2 separate regions of the Homo sapiens genome follow, and region 1 is linked to region 2. The links come from fine-mapping of genetic effects on gene expression. Tissue or cell type: breast. Region 2 holds a variant in brackets; the other region holds the start of a gene. All regions are shown on one strand. Distances are between the middles of the regions.

The links. PIP is the estimated chance that this variant, and not a neighbour inherited with it, causes the effect.
Region 1: it holds the start of WRN, and the variant in region 2 is fine-mapped to the expression of WRN in breast (GTEx, PIP above 0.99). The same link has a PIP of 0.9 or more in Th1 cells, activated naive CD4 T cells, adrenal gland, aorta, atrial appendage and blood mononuclear cells.

What each region holds. Positions count from the first base shown.
Region 1 is chr8:31,032,084-31,034,927 of GRCh38, forward strand. WRN (WRN RecQ like helicase) reads left to right here and starts at 1,727. Exons shown (of 35, transcript NM_000553.6): 1 at 1,727-1,890. PURG (purine rich element binding protein G) reads right to left here and starts at 1,273. Exons shown (of 2, transcript NM_001323311.2): 1 at 995-1,273; 2 at 1-705. The coding sequence starts at 699. RefSeq lists silencers at 1,255-1,304, 1,465-1,724, 2,695-2,764 and enhancers at 1,480-2,001, 2,835-2,844.
Region 2 is chr8:31,118,707-31,121,206 of GRCh38, forward strand. WRN (WRN RecQ like helicase) reads left to right here. Exons shown (of 35, transcript NM_000553.6): 21 at 1,537-1,718. Among named protein-coding and RNA genes, the nearest start is that of WRN, 86 kb to the left of the region's middle. The variant T/C (reference allele first, on the strand shown) is at 1,170.

The DNA of each region.
Region 1 (2,844 bases), 86 kb before region 2:
ACGAAACTCAATCATTCCTTGTGCTGGGAGGACAATAGTCTGTTCTTGGCCCAAACTGTGGCCAAAATAACCTATCATGCCAGTCCCCCGCATCATGGTTTGTCTAATCCGTAGGAAGCGACCCCGCTGATTTTCCTTTAGGTCTAGGTAATATTTCCTATTGTCCCTCTCGATATAGTCTGTTTTCAGGACACTGTGAGGATGCTCTTCGGACCCCACCGAGACTGGTGGGGAGGGTGCCGAGTGCTTCTGCCTCCTTCTGGAGCCTTGCTCTTTGCTGTGGCCATGCTCTTGCCGGTGGCCTTTCAGGCCCAGGTGGGCATAGTGCTCGATGAAGTCCCCTAGACAGTCCTTCAGCTCCGCTGCCACAGACAGGGAGAGGGTCAGTTTACTCTTTCTGATGTTGTCCTGCCGGCCTCTCCCTATCCAGACTTCGGCTATCTTTAGGAAGCGGCCCCGGGAGCTTTGCTTCACGTCTAGGTAAAACCTCTTTTTCTGGATGTCCACTCGTTTGGAGGCCAGCTCCTGGATTTCGGCTGCGCCCCCGGCCTGATTAGGGGTGGCTGAGGCCGCGTAGTGGGGGTAGTGGGAGTGCTGGGCCTGGGGATAGAGTCTACTCTTGCTTAGGCCAGAGCCCCCTACATTCTTGCCTCCGCGGCCGCGGCCGCCGCCGCCTCCCCTTCGCCTGGCTCTTTCCATCTTCAGCTGCAAGTAACAAACAGACACACGGGATGGGGTGGGGGAGGGGTGTTGAGAACAATCGCAGACGCCCCTCGGCCTGACCGCCCCGCCGCCGCCCGCGACCCCCACGCCGGGCCCGGCTCCCCCGGCGCCGCAGCGCGGGGCTCCAGCCACTGCCGGCCGGTTGGCGGCCGCCGCTCCGGCTCTGCCCGCGCTCCCCGCATCCCTCCGCCGCCCCCGGGGCCGCTCCCGCACGCCGCCGCCGCCCGTCCCGCGCTCCGCGGCCCCAGGTCTCCAGCCGGCGGGCACTCACATCATCTCTGCCATCACCGCCGCCGCCGATGCCCTTCACGACCACCGCCGCCGCCACCGCCAGCTCTCGGCCCCTCTGCTGCAGCCGCCGCAGCCGCCGCCCCCCGCCTCCTCCCCCGCCGCCGCCGCTCGCACTGCCCCCCGCCGGAGCAGCCGGGCAGGGGCATCGCCCGCGGCGCCCACCGCAGCCGCCCCTCCTGCGGCCGCTGCGGGGGCCGCCGCCTGACTTCGGACACCGGCCCCGCACCCGCCAGGAGGGGAGGGAAGGGGAGGCGGGGAGAGCGACGGCGGGGGGCGGGCGGTGGACCCCGCCTCCCCCGGCACAGCCTGCTGAGGGGAAGAGGGGGTCTCCGCTCTTCCTCAGTGCACTCTCTGACTGAAGCCCGGCGCGTGGGGTGCAGCGGGAGTGCGAGGGGACTGGACAGGTGGGAAGATGGGAATGAGGACCGGGCGGCGGGAATGTTCTCACTTCTCCGGATTCCACCGGGATGCAGGACTCTAGCTGCCCAGCCGCACCTGCGAAGAGACTACACTTCCCGAGGTGCTCAGCGGCAGCGAGGGCCTCCACGCATGCGCACCGCGGCGCGCTGGGCGGGGCTGGATGGGCTGTGGTGGGAGGGTTGCAGCGCCGCGAGAAAGGCGAGCCGGGCCGGGGGCGGGGAAAGGGGTGGGGCAGGAACGGGGGCGGGGACGGCGCTGGAGGGGCGGGTCGGGTAGGTCTCCCGGAGCTGATGTGTACTGTGTGCGCCGGGGAGGCGCCGGCTTGTACTCGGCAGCGCGGGAATAAAGTTTGCTGATTTGGTGTCTAGCCTGGATGCCTGGGTTGCAGGCCCTGCTTGTGGTGGCGCTCCACAGTCATCCGGCTGAAGAAGACCTGTTGGACTGGATCTTCTCGGGGTAAAGTGTCTTCCTATTCCCGTTTTCCCAGCTCCGTGCCCCGGGGTATCTATAGTGCTAGGCTTCTGAGACACGTGGAGGCGCTTAGGCCCGCGGAGCAGGCCCCTGGGCTGTGTTTGGGAGATTCTGGAAAAACAGACTTTCTCCCTTTTCCTTTCCCCTCTGGAGCAGCTGGGAAAGGCGTCTCTCGGAGCTTCCGCCATTCAGAAAGTGTTTCCCCGCCCCTGACGGCCCCAGCTTGATGTTTACCTTGCGCGCTTAGTTAGGATTGCTCTTTCTAGTACGGCCTTTATTATGGCAGAAATTGAGCCACTACAGGTCTGCACAGCAAAGTCGAGGGAAATAACCTGCTGTCTATGATTTAGCAAGTGATGATGGATATTTTTGAGTTCAAATCACTCAGTCTTTAATGGATTTTCTTTTCTTTTTTTCCTAGTTGAATCTCAGTTGTTCTCAGGCTAGGTTTGATATGAAAAATACTACTCCCTATTGAAGAGGGTAATATAATTCTTAGGATGCTAATACAGGAGTCTGTAAGTCGGAGTACTTCAGGCTTTTTATGGTTCGGTACATTTCTTTTTAGGGGTGGGATATTGGGATAAGTAGGACAGTTCAGATCTTGATGTCATTGAATAGTGGTGTCTACCTAAAAGGAAGAGGCTGGGGCACAAAATTATAATTTAAAGTGTTTACTTCAGCCAAAATGAGGACAGCTGCCCAGGACTCATTTCCCAGTTGCCTTGGGGAGTGCTCCTTCAGCCTTGGTTACAAGCAGGTTTTTAAAGGCGAAGGGGAAGAGTGGGCTGAGACAAAGTTGGTCAGGAATTGTTATTGGTTTACAGAGATACCATTGCTTAGTGATTGGCTGTACACTGTAACTCATAGGGTATGAGTTATCGTGTCCAGCATATGGCATTTTATGGCTTCTTGGTTCCAGTCTAGAGCCCATATAGC
Region 2 (2,500 bases):
AAAGTATACTTTTCTTTCTTATTTTTATAACCAGATCCAAACACATTTGCATGTAGATAGGCATTTTTAGTCTTGAACATTCATTTTTACTTTTAATCCTCACTTTTATTAGTTTCGTATCTTTTTGTATTTCATTTCCCCTTTCAAGATGCCTTGAGTCCTTTCTTTTTAGGAATGATGTTGTGAATAAATTATTTGATAAAATGTCTTTACACCTGAGAGTTTATAAGGATAGTTTGAAAATCATGTCTGTAAAATAGGTTGATCTCACCTAAAAATAATACCATATAATTAAAATTAGAATTATTATTGTGTTGCTTATTGACTCTTACATATATCAAAAAATTGCTGAGTCTTATTCAGCCAGAGCTTTTACTTAGTATGATATTCATTCCTATATTTACTTTTTTCTCACCTTTCTCATACTTTCTTTTACTTACTCAGCATTTTCCTCCTTTCCTCCCTCCTTTCTTTTCTTCTTTCCTTCTTTTCTCTTCCTTTCGTATTCCTGGTCCATCTTAGCATGTAATCTTTCTTTATGAAATGGCATGCAGATAGGTCTACTGTTCTTACAGTAAAAAACTTCAAGGCCTCATGTCTTTCCCACTTCTGTTTCCCATTCACAACCTTTTTAGCTGATTCTTTTGGTACTTTACCACTATATCTTGCCATAGTTTATGTACCTGGCTCCTACTTAATTTTTTGTTTATTTGTGTATTAGTCGTAGGCATTATTTATCGACTCTTCTCTCTGAAAGATGAAAGGTTAGCTCTCTTTCACATTCTTAACTGCCCTTTTTTCTTACCTTGTCCATGTATTTCTAACCCCCTTTCCTCCTAATATGTTTATGTCATAATTTTGGCTAGATTAGTGTATACGATTTACATAATTATTACTCTGTAAATGCTTTTTATGATCTCTGAGCCATGTAGTATATTATGGCTATTTTTCTTTCTTATCTATTTGTATTTTTATTGTTATTACCTAAAAAAAAATTTTCTATGTCTTATCACTAATTCTTCCCTAAAATTTCCCACAATTGTGTAAACTTACCTCAGTATATTCATAGATATGAGACATTCTATCAATTTTACCCTCTTAAAGATGCAGAGATAATGCATTATGTTTCATCCCACCATCTTTAATGAGAAGCTTCCATCTTAGATTAA[T/C]ATTAGAGAATGTTAAAATACTCTGCAATCAGGTAAGGACGCTTGAAACTTCATTATAATGCAAAAGTTTTCTTTAACACAATAAATATTTTGAACCCCTTTTGTGTCTTGTATTCATAGGAGTTCAGATAGACCACTTTATTTACTATTTTTTATAGAGAGTGAACAGAAATCCCATTTCTAGTCACCAGTCCTTAATCTGTAAATCAGGCAGATAATCTGTAAATGATTGGTTGAAATCACATTGAATTCCACTTTGTGCCAGGGACTTAAGTTAACGAACAAATTATTCTTACAAAAAGGTATAAATGTAAGGTTTTCATTCTGCTAAATATGTTTGTCAAACTGTGTTGTGATTTGTTCTCAGTGTGTCATAGCTACCATAGCTTTTGGAATGGGCATTAATAAAGCTGACATTCGCCAAGTCATTCATTACGGTGCTCCTAAGGACATGGAATCATATTATCAGGAGATTGGTAGAGCTGGTCGTGATGGACTTCAAAGTTCTTGTCACGTCCTCTGGGCTCCTGCAGACATTAACTTAAATAGGTAAAAAAAATTTATTGTTTTTACTCTTGCAGATTTCTTTCTTTCTTTCCATATAAACCTCAAAAGTGTTTGAGGCTATTTCCAGTATCCCAAGTAATTTGTGAGTGCATTTAAAGTAAAAAAAAAAAAAAAGAAAAATAAAACCTCCCCAAATCCAGAGGACATGTAAGAAGAACATTTGTGGTAAGAGTTGCCACTTGGAGATGAGCTAATTTCAGCATGCCTTAGTTAGTGTGAGGAATTAACTAAATCAGGACAATACTTGGGCCTGTCACAGAGATCCTATGGAATACTTTCCTACCATTGTGCATTAATGAACAGGTTCTTTTCCTCTCCTCAGATCCTGTCAAGTTGCGATGTCTTCAGCCATAGTTACTTCAACTACCACTGATTTTGTTACTGATTCTTTCTTCCCATGCTACAGTGGTGATTATTCCAGAGGATTTCTCTCAGTCCCTATTTGACTCTTGTTACTATTTGTTTTCTTGGTTAGTTCCATGAGACCATGCCAGTTCTCCTTGACTGTGTATGAATCATTGTGTTGCACTGTACTGACAGACTGCCGTAAGTCAATATTAAGTGTTCAGTATCTAAGTGCAGGAGAACCTTTCTACTTAAGTACTCAACAAGTAGTTTGTTGGCACTTAAGTTCTATGAGATTTTTTGTTGTAAAGGAAAACATTATCTTGCAAAGATTTTGGGGCAGCATTTACCAATACTTTGTTCCTTCATCCGTAGGAAAAAGAATCTCAGGAGAAAAACCTATACATGGTAACCAATGG